2 separate regions of the Homo sapiens genome follow, and region 2 is linked to region 1. The links come from fine-mapping of genetic effects on gene expression. A gene starts in region 1. The other region holds a variant in brackets. All regions are shown on one strand. Distances are between the middles of the regions.

Region 1 (8,332 bases):
TCCTTCCATGGGTCCTAGTTTCAACATATCTCTCAAAACATGAGCATCTCACCACCTGGAGCAGAATTTCAGAGCTTAAAGATAAGCCACACTTTTGCCTTCAAACTAAAACTAAGGTTTCATTTCATCAGGTGCTCAACCCCAGAAATCATGATGAGTCCAAGTTTAATATTGACGGAAACCAGTGAAGCTGGACTTCCAAGGGGCTATGTTGCCTTCAGCCTTTTCGGGGGCTTCTCCAAGGCAATTTTGACTGCATGGGTTTGGCTCTAAATGCTGGCTTTTTGTTTGTTTGTTTTGGTTTTTGTTTTTTGTTTTTTGTTTTAGCTAGAGTCTCACTCTATCGCCCAGGCTGGAGTGCAGTGGCGCAATCTCAGCCCACCACAACCTCCACCTCCCGGGTTCAAGCAGGAGTGTCCCTAAGCACTGGCTTTAAAATACAATGCCTGAGGAAACTGGGGACTTCATATTGTTTCAAAGCTAGATAGATCCCAGCTTGTGAATCTTTGAGTCTCAGGCCTTTGGAAAGGCAAAGCATCTTGATTATGAGAGAGCGGCTCTCATTCTCATCGACAAGAGGCAACCCGTAATCTTTTAGACATTGGAGCATAAGCCCAACGCCGGCAGTGTGTATATGTGGGGTGGAGGCAGGAGGATCACCCAGAGGCATTGAATGCTTTTGTGCCAGCATGAGATGCTGATAAATACACAGCAACTGGGCTCTGGGGAAAAGACATGGTTCCAGGGTGCCCTGCAGAGGTTCTAAAGAGATGAGCCTTCTTAGAGCCAAACTGCCACGACAGCCAATAGCCTGGGTCAGATACTTAGGATCAACGAATGCTTTGTGAAGCCTGGATCCCCAGCTAGGAACAATAATACTACACCCTTCCAGCAGGAGAAGAAAACCTGCCCACTTACTTTTACTTCCTGCCCACTGCCGAGCCACTGCCTTCTATCAGTGTACTAGAAAGGGTGAGAGAGACCTGAGTTTGCATTCCAGCTCTGACAATTACCAGCTATTATCCTTGGCCAAATCAAATTACCTGCTGGAGCCTCTGTTTCCACATCTGTAAAATGGGAGTAATGATAATAAAACACCAAAAGCTTGGAGAGGGTAAATGATCAGCTTGAATATAATAATTATAAGGTGTTTAGCACATAGCAAGCACCTGAATAAAGTGTTTTCTGTGGTTGGGCATGGTGGCTCACACTTGTAATCCCAGCACTTTGGGAGTCCAAGACAGGTGGATCACTTGAGGTCAGGAGTTGGAGACGAGCCTGGCCAACATGAAGAAATCCCATCTCTACTCCAAATACAAAAATTAGCCAGGCATATTGGCGCATGCTTGTAATCCCAGATACTCAATAGGCTGAAGCAGGAGGACTGCTTGGACCCAGGAGGCGGAGGTTGCAGTGAGCCGAGATCACACCACTGTACTCCAGCCTGGGCAACAGAGTGAGACTCTGTCTCAAAGAAATAAATAAATAAAATAAAAATAAATAAAATGGTTTTTAAAAAAATTTTAATTAAAAAAAAAAAGTAGAGACAAGGTCTCACCATGTTGCCCAGGCTGGTCTCAATCTCCTGGGTTCAAGCTATCCTCCCTCTTCAGCCTCCCACAGTGCTGGAATTACAGGAGTGAGCCATTGAGCCTGGCCTAAAGTGTAATTATTGACATAACATCAACCTCATCCTCTTGAATGTCAGAGCTGGAAAGAATTTTTGGATCAATGTGTATTATGCTACATCTATTCTTCCTGCTTTTGATAAATATTCTTCCTGCTTTTGATAAAACCTCTTAAGTACTGGGTTTTGCCTAGATGCTGGGAAGATAGGTTGGGGAGGAAGACAGAAGAGGTATCTGCTCTAGGTGTTCCCGGCTGAAGATGCAGACAGGAGGAATGAATTATTTTGTCTGCCTTCAAAGTCACATCAAATTCCTGGGCTGCACAGTCTGGTGTCTGGTCCACCACGATGTCCTGAGGGGCAATTAGCCTTCCTCAAGGAGGTGACAGACAGATTGAGACCTGGAAAGGTTCACTGAGCTAGGGGTACTGAGAGAAGTCCCAACCTAGACAACAAGACGATCATTCTGATCCTCCTCCTTAGCCTCTCAACTGAGATCTGCCAATTCTGTCTTCCAAACCTCTCCGGAACCAAAACACCCCCTCCATGCCCACATCCCCTCTCTGGGTTCCTGAATTATTTCAACACCCTCCAAACCAGTTTCTGCCTGTTTCTTCTTCACACAGCACCAGAGGGATCTTTGCAGAAAGTCAGGCTCCCCATGCCCTTCCCCTGTTGAACACCTTCCCTGTCTCTCCATCACTGCAAGAGAAAAGCCCCGACTCCTTCCCACAGCCCACAAAGCTCTGCAGCATCCAGCCCTGCAGACACCTCTGATCTCTTCTCTCACCTCCACCACATCCTGTCCACTCTGCACTTCATGCAAGGCCCCAGGCTCGCTTCCTTCCTGCTAGGCCTTTGCACCTGCTAGATTCTGTGACCAGTGCACTCTTCCAAGGATCCCCACCCATGCCTCTGGCATGTATACACACGCCTGGCCCTCCCTCCCTGGACCAGGTTAATCTCTGCTGCTCCTGCCTCATCAGTTACAGGTGCTCACTTTACTGTGAAGGCTTGTTGAAGGATCTAGCTTCCCCAACTTGGACCTTTGTCCCCCTGTTAGCTGCTGAATCTGTGCCTAGCATAGAGAGCTCAGGAAATGCCATTGCTAGAATGTTATTAAACAAATGCCCCCATTCACACCTCTTCCTCTGAACTCCATTTTTTTCATCCACAAAAGGACATTATAAAACACCCTGCTGGTGTTTAATCTATGTGTCTATCAAATCAGTCATATGAAGTCTCTAACATGCACGCAATAAACACTATGTAATGTTGTTGTATTGTTTCCAGACCAGTAATGGCTGGCTCCATGGAGGCAGCTTTATCAGTCCCAGCATTTTCCATAAGGCAAGCACTAACTATTTATTGGACACATGAATGAATTAATGAATGACCAATGAATGAACATGTGGCTGGCCATGGGCAAATTACTTAATATCTGTGTGCCCTAGTTTCTGTGTGTGTGTGTGTGTGTGTGTGTGTGTGTGTGTGTGTACTCACCCAGGATGGAGTGCAGTGGTGCGATCTACACTCACTGTAACCTCTGCCTCCTGGGTTCAAGCAATTCTCGTGCCTCAGCCTCCCAAGTAGGGGGAATTACAGGTGAGCAGCACCATGCCCTGCTCATTTTTTTTTTTTTTTTTTGAGACGGAGTCTCACTCTGTCGCCCAGGTGGGAGTGCAGTGGTGCGATCTTGGCTCACTGCAACCTCCACCTCCTGGGTTCAAGCGATTCTTCTGCCTCAGCCTCCTGAGTAGCTGGGACTACAGGCATGCACCACCATGCCCAGCTAATTTTTGTATTTTTAGTAGAAACAGGGTTTCACCATATTGGTCAGGCTGGTCTTGGATTCCTGACCTGGTGATCCACCCGCATCGGCCTCCCAAAGTGCTGGGATTGCATTTTTTTTTTTTTTTTTGAGACAGAGTCTCACTTGTTGCCCAGGCTGGAGTGCAGTGCAATCTCAGCTCACTGCAACCCTTGCCTCCCAGGTTCAAGCGATTCTCCTGTCTCAGCCTCCTGAGTAGCTGGGACTACAGGCATGTACCACCACACCCGGCTAATTTTTGTATTTTTAGTAGAGACAGGGTTTCGCCATGTTGGCCTGGCTGGTCTCGAACTCCTGACCTCATGTGATCCACCCACCTTGGCCTCCCAAAGTCATTTTCGTATTTTTATTAGAAACGAGGTTTCACCATTTTGGCCAGGCTGGTCTTGAACTCCTAGCCTCAAGTGATCCGCCCGCCTCGCCTCCCAAAGTGCTAGAATCACAGGTGTGAGCCATGCACCTGACCCAGAAATTTATTTTAAACAGATAATATATACATATGGCAAATAGAAAGTTAAAAGAGAACAAAGAACCAAAGTTCACAATGAAAAGTAAGCCTGCATGCCTACCCTACCTTTTCTTCAGGTATTCAATGCACAAGCATACGATGCATAGATAGCTCTATTATTTTTCCAATTTTACACATGAAGAAGCAGAAGCACTGAAAGGTTATAGAACTTAGACTGTGCTAAGATTTATCAGTCAGGAGTTTTGTTTCATTTGTGTATATCAGGGCTTCACAACCTTTACGCTATTCGGCATTTTTTGCAGGGTTTTTTTTGGGGGGGTAGTGGCAGGGCTGGGGGTGGAAAGGGTGTCCTATGCACCGCAGAATGTTTAGCAGCATTCCAGGCCTCTACTCACTAGATGCCAGTATCGCCTCTCCACTTCCCCAGTTATGACAACCAAAAATGTCTTCAGAGATTGCCAAATGTCGTGGTGGTGGAGGGATGTCAGGGCAAAATCCCTGATAAATGGAGAGAATGTGGTATATCCACAAAAACTCCCTCCAAAACCACTGGTGTGTATGACTATACATCAGACCACCCCTTTCTTTTTTCTGTGTTTTACACAAACAGTAGCACGAATACACCCCGCTGCGGGTCTACTTTTCTTTTCTTACACCACTTTTTGGTGATCATTCCACTTCATTGCTTACAGGCAGAAAGGAACTTCTCTTAAACAGAACTGACCGGGAGAAGTGGTGAGCTGCCCGTCCTAGGGGTAAGCCAGCGAGCAGACAGGGGCTTCCAGGGCGGCGGGGCGGGGTTCCCGGGGCGAGCCTCCGGGAAACTTCCCGACCAGCCTCTGCTCACCTCGCGGTCCCGAGGCGCAGTGGAGGGGATGGGGCGGGGCGGGGCGGGGCCGCGTATCGGGCCCGCCCCCGTACGTCACGTCGCCGCGGCCCCGCCCCCGCGCGGGCACCTCCCCCTTCCCCGGCTGGGGCGGCTGGAGAGCCGGGAGTCGCTGGGTGCGTGGGGCTGCCTCGCCGCGTCTCGCCACGGTAGGTGGCCCTGGGGCGGCAGGGGGTGGCCTCGGGTTGCAACCGGGGGCGCGGGCTGGGGGCCGTGCGGGTCGGCCTCGGGCGCCTGGCAGCCCTCCGTCCTGGCGGCTGCCTCCGGGCCCGGCGCGACTGCTCGGGCTCCGGGGCTGGGAGCTGGGATCTGGGAGGCAGGCAGGCGGCGCGGGCGCGCGGTTCTGGGATCCGCACCCGCTCGGCGTCCCGAGCGCTTTCCGCGGGGTGCGGCATCCACCGGGCCCCCGTTACCACGCTTCCCGCTTCGGACCCAGCGCCTGGGAGACGCTCAGCGTCTGTTGGCGGGGGGACTGGGGGGGAGGGCGGCGCGTCCCCGCCTCCGGAGTCCCCAACCTCGCCCAGGCGCGCGGGGACCCCCAGGCGGGCGCCAGGGCGCGTGGAAGTTAACTTGCAGCAGCCGTGGAGTTGCGAGGAGCGTCAGAAGTGGAGGCGTTGGGGGCGGAAATCGTCGGCTGGGGAGGTGGGCGCTGGGAGCACTGGGTTGGGGAGCCCTAGTGAACTTGGAGGTCACTGGTGAGGAGTGGAGAGGAATTTGACCCGAGGATCCCACCCCAACCCCCAACCTCCCTCCGTAAACTCCGCTTCTCGGTGTGAGCTGGATGGGAGGTGCCCGGAAAGCCGGGACTGGGACTGGTAGCAGGGGACTGGGAGCATGGGCTCAGAGGCTGAGCACGCCTGACCTGGCAGAGTCGTTGTTAGATGGGACAGAGGTCGAGGTCTGGCATTCCCACTCAAAGGCCCGTTCCCTAGGGAAGGAACCATCCACCTCAGCAGAGTCATTAGAAAGAACCGTGCCTAACCTCTTGCCCCCTTCCCCTTTTACAGATGGGGAGACTGAGGCTTGGAGAGGTCACCTGCCCGTGACCCTAGGATTCACAGCTAGGATGTGGCAGAGCTGAAACTCACTCACAGGCCTCCTGACTTAATGTCCTTGGGGATGTTGAGGAGGCGGGCTGTTGAACTCCTACTTATCCTACAGAAGCCCCCTCAAGCAGCACCTCCTCCGGGAAGCCTTCCCTGGCATTCTCCTGGTATTGTTGGGTGCTTCCTGTTTTGAACCCCACAGAGTTAGCCAGCCCTTTTTCTCACTTCCCAACAGACATTCCCTTGCATGTCTGTCTGCCAGACTGGGCTGTGGGTGGACACCTCTCCCTAGCCTCCATGTGATAACCCTTTCATCTCAGCAGGGTGGTCTGCTGGCGAGGGTAGGCTTCTGGATTTGAACAGATCTGTGACACACCGGATTTAGTAGTGATGTGGCCCGGGCGACGCATTTTCCTTCCGATCTAGTCTCAGTTTCCATAACTGTAAAGCTGGGTTTATTTCATTGTCCTAAAGGAACTGTTGGGTCATTTCTGAATCCCCCCACCCCACTGAACCCCAATTGTACTGTTGTTTACTTAATATACATCTTTGTATCACCTGATTTTTAAAAATCTCATGCAAACTTTTTTTATAACAGCTTTGTTGAGATACAGTTCACATGCCGTACAATTCACCCTTTTAAAGTATATGTTTCCGTAATTTTTAGGATGTTCAGAGTTGCATAGTCATCACCACTGTCTAATTTTAGAACATTTTTATCATGCCCAAAAGAAAGGCTGTTTCATGGTCACTCCCCAATCCTTTCTTCCCCTATCCCTTGGCAACCACTTACTGACTCTCAAATTCTCTATGAATTTGCCTGTGCTGGACATTTCATATAAATGCAGTCATATACTATGTGGCCTTTGGTATCTGATGCTTTTCACTTCAGAGAATGTTTCTAAGGTTCAGCCCCTTGCAGCCTGTATCAGTACTTCATTCCTTTTTTTTTTTTTAAGTACTTCGTTCCTTTTTATGGCTGCATAATATTCTATTATGTGGATATACCACATTCTATCCATTTGTCAGCTGATGGATGTTTGGGTTGTTTCTAACTTTTGACTATTATGAATAATACTGCTATGAACATTCATGTACAGGTCTTTGGACATACATTTTCAGTTCTCTCAGGTATATTTCTAGGAGTGGAATGATTGGGTCGTAAGGTAACTTTAGGTTTCACCTTTAAATATTTTTTTAATTTATTTTATTATTTATTTATTTTGTAGAGATAGGGGTCCCACTATGTTGCCCAGGCTGGTCTTGAACTCCTGGTCTCAAGCGATCCTCCTACCTCAGGCTCCCAAAGTGCTGGGATTATAGGTGTGAGCCACTGCACCCAGGTTTAACCTGTTGAGGACCTGCCAGACTATTTTTCCAGAACAGCTGTACCATTTTATATTCCTACCACCAGTGTATGAGGGTTCCAATAATCTTAAATACATTTAGTGTTCTCTGAAGCAGTCATAACCCTTGAAATCACTGGCTTTGATGTGTTAGTTGTAAACTATTTTCAGGCCGGGCACGGAGGCTCACACCTGTAATCCCAGCACTTTGGGAGCTAAGGTGGGCAGGTCACCTGAGGTCAGGAGTTCGAGACCAGCCTATCCAATATGGTGAAACCCCGTCTCTACTAAAAATACAAAAATTAGCCAGGTGTGGTGGTGCGTGCCTGTAACCCCAGCTACTTGGGAGGCTGAGGCAGGGGAATCGCTTGAACCCAGGAGGCAGAGGTTGCAGTAAGCCAAGATCAATCACACCACTGCACTCCGGTCTAAGTGACAGAGCAAGACTCTGTGAAAATACCGAAGCAAGGAGAGGCAGTGTAGGACCCAGTGGCTTACAGAGCCCACCCCAGGAGCTGGCACACAGTATTAGGAGGGGGTGAAAGGAAGGTGGAAGCTGCTCGGATCTTCCCATCCCGGGCCAGCCTGGAGCCCCCTTGCCAGCTGAGGCTTTGTGGAGGCCAGGGAGACCCTCCATGGCTCTCCTAGACCATAACTGAAGGGGAAGACTTGTCCCTTGACCCCAAAATTAAGTCTGGTCCTGCCCACACCCTATCTGGAACCCCCCACGCTACTCTGAAGGTGACTTCTCTGGGTGGCCACCGGAGTGTCCTATGTGAGTTGCTGCTTATTTCAAGAGGGGCCACCCCCCAGGCCTGAGATGAGCAGTCCTGAGTTACAGACGCTTCATCTGTGAACATTCTGCACACACAGACATCTTCCCCCTCCTCTCAGCACCTTCCCCACCCCTAGGACCCTGTGTTTCTTCCTTCACACTCTTTGCTTCAGCAAGAGGCTGCACCGGAAGAACTCAGGTCAGAACCCAGCGTTTTCACAGAGGAAGAGTTCCTTGAGAAGGTAGGTAGTTCACCCCAGCTTGAACCTGTACTCTGCTGGTTCAGGAACTTAGACCAGCACTTATCTGCGTGTTCCAGTTTCCTGACAACTTGGTTCATCTGGGCAGCTGC
Region 2 (8,332 bases), 64 kb after region 1:
GGTTTCGCCATGTTGGCCAGGCTGGTCTCGAACTCCTGACCTCAAGTGATCCACCCACCTCGGCCTCCCAAAATGCTGGGATTACAGGCGTGAGCCACTGCTCCTGACCCCAACCCTTTTGTAAAACACTTTTAGCCTTGTTGTTCAAGAGTCTTCAAAAGATCTGAACCCTTCCACCTGCTCCTGCTGATTCCTTTTTTTTTTTGAGATGGGGTTTCACTGTGTCACCCAGGCTGGAGTGCAGTGGCGCCATCTCAGCCCACTGCAACCTCCACCTCCCGGGTTCAAGCATGATTCCATTTTTTAGAAGTGAATTCTAAGGGAATGATTCAGTAGAGCTTCAGTACCCAACAGAAGAGAGGCAGAATCAGGATGTGATGTCATTTAAAATACTGCAAAAATTGGAACCATTCTTAGGTAAGCAGTCAGTAAACGGTGGTACATGCACTCCACAGAATATCTGTAGCCATCCAAAATGGTGCTAGTGAAACCCAAATGATGAAAAAATAGTAAGAAAGCAAAACAAAGCAGCTCATACTATACAATTGCAACTAATGTAAAAATGCATATTCAGGTGGACAAAAAAAGGCAACACGCAGGAGTTGGGTGCAGTGGCATGCCTGCAGTCCCAGGTTCTCAGGAGGCTGAGGTGGGAGGATCGCTGGAGCCCCTGTCTCTTAAAAACAACAGCAGCAACAACAACAACAAAAACGAAGGCAACGTGCAAAAATGAGAAGTTTCAGTTTGTGGATAATTCTCCTCATCCCCACTGTGTTGTTCTGCCTACATCATCTTTTTGGTTAAAACAAATACTAAATTAGTGCTCACTAATTCTGGCTACTTTCTTGACGTCAGCAAAAGATAGATCTCTGATTCCCACAAAGGGAGTGGGACCTCTCCCCAAACAACCAGGAAATGCTCAAAAGCCATGGTCCCTAGCTCTCAGATCGCATTAATTTTTTTTTTTTAAATTCAAGGCCAACACAGTGAGACCCCATCTCCCTACAAAAAAGAGAAAGCCTTAGCTGGGTATGGCACATGTGGCACATGTTCGTGCCACTGCACTCTGGCCTGGGTGGCAGAGTGAGACCCTGTCTCATAAAAAAGAATACAACTCAGGTACAGTCAAATGCAAGAAGCGTAGGGTGAGGTATGGGGGATGGGTCACAGAACATCCATGCCCTTTCCCGGCATGACACCCTCCCAGCCTCTCAATGTGTTTACCAACCAGGAAGCTTTCCAAATTCTGTCATTTAGAGATTTCATCATAGAGGCATGACTGATTAAATCATGGGTCATGGGTGATTGCCCAATCTCCAGCTCCTAGCCCCTAGACCCTCTCCCCTCTCCCCTCCCAGGAGGTCAGGGAGGGGAGAAGGCAGGTGGGGCTTAAAGTTCCAACCTTCTGGCTGGGTGTGGTGGCTCATGCCTGTAATCCTAGCACTTTGGGAGGCTGAGGCAGGCAGATCACTTGAGGTCAGCAGTTCAAAACCAGCCGGGCCAACATGGTGAAACCCTGTCTCTACTAAAAATACAAAAAATATTAGCCATTCGTGGTGGCACACGTCTGTAGTCCCAGCTACTTGGAAGGCTGAGGCAGGAGAATTGCTTGAGCTCAGGACGCGGAGGTTGCAGTGAACCAAGATTGCACCACCGCACTCCATCCAGCCTGGGCAACACAGTGAGACTCCGTCTCAAACAACAAAAAAAGTTCCAACCCTCTAATCATGCCTTGGTCTTTCTGAGACCCCTTCCCCTAATCCTGAAGCTATCTAGGGACCCCCAGCCATTAGTCATGTCATTAGCATGCAAAAGATACGTTTTGTTTTTTTTTTGTTTTTGTTTTTGTTTTTTTGATACCTAGTCTCCCTCTGTCACCCAGGCTGGAGTGCAGTGGCATGATCTTGGCTCACTGCAACCTCTGCCTCCCGGGTTCAAGCGATTCTCCTGCCTCAGCCTCCTGAGTAGCTAGGATTACAGGTGCCCGCCACCACACCCGGCTAATTTTTGTATTTTAGTAGAGACAGAGTTTTGCCATGTTGGCCAGGCTGGTCTCAAACTCCTGACCTCAGGTGATCCACCCTCCTCGGCCTCCCAAAGCGCTGGGATTACAGCCATGAGCCATGGCGCCCGGCCAAGATACCCTTATTCCTTCAGAGATTCCAAGAGTTTGGGGAGCTATGTGCCAGGAACTGGGGACAATGAACAAATATTTATTATTATACCACAGCTGAAATGCCATCTTGTAGAGTCCTTTCCTGGCCACCGTTTTTGAAGTAGCACAGATACTGATCACTCATAGCAGCCTGTCATATTGCCCAAGTTTGACATTTTCTTGCATCTGTGCGTGTTCAGTAGGCTTTTTCTTCAACTCGAACGTAAGTTCCGTGATCCTAGGTTTGGGTCTGTCCCGCTCACCACGCTATCCCAGCACCTGGCACATAGTAGATGTACAGTAAATACTACGTGAATAAGCATGTGCATGACTCAGTGATGCTGAGGGGTGACCCTCAATACAGCAAGGCATCCCTCACCTGGCCGTGACCCCTTCTTCTGTGTATTGTCTTTCTCCAGGTGAACCAGAACAGCACCTCCTCCCACTTAGGAAGCTCGTGATTTCCAGGTAAGCCTGTGGACTTCACTGGGGGTTCCCGCTGCTTCTGGGTGGCCCCGGAGCCACTTTTCTGAAAAGCCACTTTTCTGTCCTTCCAGAGCCTCCCTGGGGTAGACATGTCCACTAGGGTGGGCTGACCCAGCCCCATCAGAGGTTTCCATGGTGACAGACTGGGGGTGCTATTTATAGAATCAAGGCTTAGTTTTCTAGCTCTGGATCAAGGACAGGGAGAGGGATTAACGCTGAACCAACCAGAAAAAGGTTTGTCTGACACTGGGGACAGGGCAGGAAGCACCACTATGATGGGGGAGGGGGAGATTCTGGAACCATTTTTGCACAGAATGCTGTCTGCCAGTCTGGCTTCTAAAAACAGCATCAGCGTTGGGCCAGAGCAATTAATGTTCTAATAACAGTCACAAGTCGTTCTGTTCTAAGAATAACCCCCATGGCCGTTGGGCCAGGTACTGGTCCTGTGTTACTCATTTAACCCTCAGCATCCTTGGGAGGCGGATGACATGATCATTCCATTTTACAGAAGAGAAAACCAAAGCACAGAGAAGGAAGGGCTTTGACTTGCCCAAGGCTACACAGCCACCAAGGGACAGAATTCCTCCCAGGTTTGCTTTTAGTGAATGATTTTAAGTGCACATTTATCCATCCATATTCTACTAAGGGGTGGGGAAAGGGATTTTTTTGAACTTGGTAATTCAAAGATTTAAGATCTCCAGGTTTAACTCCCTTCAGCCCCTGTTTTCTTCATCTGGAGAATGGGGATTCATCATTGCCCACCTCTGAGGTTGGCCATGAGATGGCGTGAGCTGGCCCAGGTGGGAGTGCTTGGAAACCGTGAAGTGCTGGGCCCTCGCTGTGGACTTGGGCACTGGAGTTAAGGCTGCATGAGTGAGCTCACTTCCTTCTGTCCCCCAGCCTCTATGATCAGGTTAAAGGAAACCTCAAGAGAGGTTATTTTACATGGAAACACCTTCCAGCTTGGACTCTTATTTTTAGTCTCTGTATCTATTTTTAAACAATCAGCATATGTTTTAGTTTTTCTTTCAATTTACTTTGCTCCAACCTGCAAGGACTCTGTCATTATTAGGGTTCCCATCTTGAGTTGCACTAAGATCCCAGAGTTTTTGTTTTTGAGACAGAGTCTCACCCTGTTCCCCAGGCTGGAGTGCAGTGGCACGATCTCAGCTCACAGCAATCTCCACCTTCTGGGGTTCAAGTGACTCTCGTGCCTCAGCCTTCCAAGTAGCTGGGGTTACAAGTGTGCGCTACCACACCCAGCTAATTTTTGTATTTTTAGTAGAGACGGGGTTTCACCATGTTGGCCAGGCTGGTCTCAAACTCCTGGCCTCAAGTGATCTGCCCACCTCAGCCTCCCAAAGTGCTGGGATTACAGGCATGAGCCACCACACCTACCCAAGATCCCATAGTTCTATTCCAAAGAAAAGAACCCTCTCATGAAAAACAGCTTTCCTCCCTGTTCCTCACTAACTGTTCCCTCGCTGCCTTTCTGCAGATCATTAGTAGAATCCTGGACCTTCTCATTGACAAAAGCAGATTTGTTACTTGTTTTACTGTTTAAATGAGATACCATATAGAGGTGCTTTAGCTGAATCCTGGGTACAGAGTTGGCCTTGAACAAACATGAGTCCTTCTCTTGCCTCCAAGAATTCATCAGTATTTATCACATAATCACTGTCATTTGCTCTGTGTCCATAAGAAAAGTGTATATTTGAGGTCAAGTGGATGCAAGATGAGATGTGGGGAAGAACCCAGGAAACGTTTTTAAATTTAAACTCTCTCTGGCCATCTGGGATGCATTCTTAAAACATTACATGCTTATGCGAATGGATGAAGACAGTATGTTCTGCAATCACATGTATAAATATAAATGATCTATTTCAGAATTGTTACTCTGAGCCTAACACAGTCTTCCCCACTTTCAGATCTC[C/T]GCAAATGACTTCATTGCCAAGAAGAGAAGAAAATGCATTTAAGTGGAAATCGGACCTCTAATCCAAGCATATTGCTTGCTATTAATCGCCAAAACAGGACTGCTGATGAGGAATGTATTTGCATATGTTTGCAAAAGCTGAATCATTGAAAACGTACCTTGAAACTCTCTATCTCTGGACACTCCAGGGTAGAGAATGAAGGGTATGGAAGTAGTCCGGCTTTTGAAACTTAGGTATTTTATATTTTTCCCCTCAAGAACTTTTTTTTAAGAGACAGATTTGCCATCCTCCTTAATTTGCAGGACTGCCTTGGTGGCTTTGTTTGCTGGGACAAGGCCCACAACCTGTGCCTCTCCTATTGACCCTTACTTTGAATTCAAAGAATCTATTTAAGAGTTTAATATATGAGGCTTTCTTTGATTCCTCCTCAGTTCTACCTAGTTTCACAGAGGAAAAAAATACTCTTTGAATAAAGTGAACAGAGGCTCATTTGTTTGTGCCTTACTTTACTGAATGAATAGGGTTTTTTTTTTCTTTCCATACTGGATTTTGTCAGGTAGATTTGTGATGAGCAAAAAGCTGGAGAATATAGGTGCATGTAAGGCACAGCTGAATTCCTGTGTCAGGGTCCCCAGGGCCACCCCCAGGATCGATGATTGGCTAGAAGAACTCAGAATTCAGAAGAGCTATTATCCTTATGGTTATGGTTTATTACAGCAAAAGGATAAACATTAAAATCAGCAAAAGAGGCCGGGTGGAGTGGCTCACGCCTGTAATCCCAGCACTTTGGGAGGCCAAGGCAGGCAGATCGCCTGAGGTCAGGAGTTCGAGACCAGCCTGGCCAACATGGTGAAACCCCGTCTCTACTAAAAATACAAAAATTACCTGGGCGTGGTGGTGTGCACCTGTAATCCCAGCTACTCAGGAGGCTTGAACCTGGGAGGCGGAGGTTGCAGTGAGCGGAGATCGTGCCATTATACTCCAGCCTGGGTGACAGAGCAAGACTCCATCTCAAAATAAAATCAACAAAAGAAAAAGGTGCATAGGGCAGAGTCCGGGAGAGACCGGCCTCAAGCTTCCAGTTGTCATCTCCTGGTAGAGTCTTACAGACACACTTAATTTTCCCAGCAATGATATGTGACAACACGTACTAAATATTACCAGCCAGAAAGCTCACCCTAGCCTTGGGGTCTAGGTTTTTATTGCATGTCAGTCACATAGGGCAATCACATGACCGACTTTAGTTACTTAATCACCAGCTGCTCCAGAGGTCAAAATGATACAGCATGGCCCAAGGTCCCCACCATAAATCACATTATTAGCACAAACTATCTGGCCTGGTATGGCCCAAGGCCTGAGGTATACAAAGACACCCCTACTTGGGAGGATATTCCAAGGACTTAGAGGTTATCTCCCAGGAGCCCATTAAGGCCAGTTTTTTCTTTGAGATGTGCTGGGTTTGGACACTTCAAGCCTGCTGAGTTAACCCTTATAGCACAGTCCCCAAATGCTGAGGGACCAACTGGGCCTACAATAAGTTTGTATCTTTAAGGGTTAAGGTGTTTTACCCATACCTCCTTGCCTTATATCTCATGATAATATGAGGCTTTTGGAAGGCAGTGACTTATTGTGGCTTGGGGCATGGGTTTTTGGAGTCAGGCTGACCTACTGGCTGTATGGCTTGAGACTTTGTCTCTTCATCTGTAAAATGGGGAAGTTAAAACTTCATGGTGTGTATGTGTGTATGTGTGTGTTTAGACAGAATCTCGCTCTGTCACTCAGGCTAGAGTACAGTGGCGTGATCATAGCTCACTGCAGCCTCGGTCTCCTAGGGTCAGGTGATCCTCCCATCTTAGCCTCCTGAGTAGCTGGGCATGTGCCACCACACCTGGCTACTTTTTAAATTTTTTTTTTTCTGTAGAGACGAGGTCTTTCTATGCTGTTCAGGCTGAACTTCATGGGTTTATTGGGGATGGCTAATGGATGACATTGGCGGTGGTCCTTGATACCAGATAAGCCCTCAGTGTGAAGCAGCTCTTATTTTTCCTTGTCTTGAGATTGCTCTGGAATGGAAATTAGGCTTTTTTGAAGGTGTGACCCTTTTTGTTCATTTCTTCAGCAGTTACTTTTTATTTTTTAAATGTTTGACACACAGTCTCTGATAAATGATCATTCACCAATCACCGATTACTCTCCTTGCTCTGTTAAGTGTGACACTGTCCCTTTGAGAATCTGGCGACAGCTATGTATCCCATCACCACACACCCCAAAAAAAAAATTTATGTCTGGTTCCAGGAGTTACCTTTTATGAGAAGTCCATCTGTGAAGACCCTGGATGTTCAGAGAACTTCCTGGGAAAACACTGAAAGAAAATAAAGAGGCCGGGCCCGGTGGCTCATGCTTGTAATCCCAGCACTTTGGGAGGCTGAGGTGGGCAGATAAGCTGAGGTCAGGAGTTCCAGACCAGCCTGGCCAACGTGGCGAAACCCCATCTACTAAAAATACAAAAATTAGCTGGGCGTCGTGGCGCATGCCTGTAGTTGCAGCTACTTGGGAGGCTGAGGCAGGAGAATTGCTTGAACCCAGGAGGCAGAGGTTGCAGTGAACCAAGATCATGCTAGTACACTCCAGCCTGGGCAACAGAGTGAGACTCCATCTCAAAAATAAAATAAATAAAACAAAATAAAATAAATACAATTTCTGTTTCTAGCCCCTAAGTGGTAGCACTGGGTCTTGTTCCCTGAAAAAAACTAGGCTCAGAATCCACTCTCATTTCATCTCCCCTGATTTGATCTGAAAAGATTTTGTTTAGAGTACTACATGAATATATTATAAAACATGGGACAATCAGAATTGATAGTAAGAAGGCAAGTGGCTCTATTTGTACTTCCTCTCAATAGCTCCTAAAGGTAATGCTACCATTTTCTGTTTGTACATAGTCTTCCAGACTTTAAATTTTTGAACATATAAATATTATCATCTTAAAGACGTATGGAAAAAACCATTTTGAATAGGTTATTCCAAAATGTAATTTAACAGATTGCTCTGGAGGATTGTTTGTTTGTTTGTTTTGGAGACAGAGTCCCGCTTGGTTGCTCAGGCTGCAGTGCAGTGGCACAAACACAGCTCACTGCAACCTCTAACTCCTGCAAACACAGCTCACTGCAACCTCTAACTCCTGCAAACACAGCTCACTGCAACCTCTAACTCCTGCAAACACAGCTCACTGCAACCTCTAACTCCTGCAAACACAGCTCACTGCAACCTCTAACTCCTGGGCTCAAGCAGTCCTTTCACCTCAGCCTCCTGAGTAGCTGGACCATGACACCTACCTAACTTTTTATTTTTTGTAAAGAGGGGAATCACTATGTTGCCCAGGCTGGTCTCAAACTCCTGGGCTCAAGCAATCCTTCCTCAGCCTCTCAAAGAGTTGGGTTTACAGGCGTGAGCCACCGCACCTGGCTCCTGGAGCATTTCTGATGTGAACATGTGCTGATCTAACACCACTCCTTTTACCAGCTGCCTGTTCTAGAGCAAACCATCTTTTTTGAGCATTCCACTTTGGCTAGGCCCTTAGGCTGTTAGCAGTTTTCATCGCTACTGGCAAAGCTGCAGTGGACGTTCTCCTGCACATATAACCTCTTGATGCCACTGTATGAGTGAGTCTCTGCAAAATGAGAAGTAGAATTGCTGGGGTGAAAGGCATACATACTAACTTTTTTGATTAATTCCACCCATGTACCCTGATTTGGGCAGA

Evidence for each region.
Region 2: its variant is fine-mapped to the expression of TPST2 in whole blood (TOPMed, PIP above 0.99).

Annotation. Positions count from the first base shown.
Region 1 is chr22:26,586,683-26,595,014 of GRCh38, reverse strand. TPST2 (tyrosylprotein sulfotransferase 2) reads left to right here and starts at 4,883. Exons shown (of 7, transcript NM_003595.5): 1 at 4,883-4,962. It also overlaps a transcript of CRYBA4 not described here. RefSeq lists enhancers at 2,083-2,232, 4,529-4,668, 5,185-5,685 and silencers at 4,779-5,148, 5,159-5,338.
Region 2 is chr22:26,522,505-26,530,836 of GRCh38, reverse strand. TPST2 (tyrosylprotein sulfotransferase 2) reads left to right here. Exons shown (of 7, transcript NM_003595.5): 6 at 2,575-2,623; 7 at 4,570-8,332. The coding sequence ends at 2,616. Among named protein-coding and RNA genes, the nearest start is that of TFIP11-DT, 14 kb to the right of the region's middle. The variant C/T (reference allele first, on the strand shown) is at 4,575.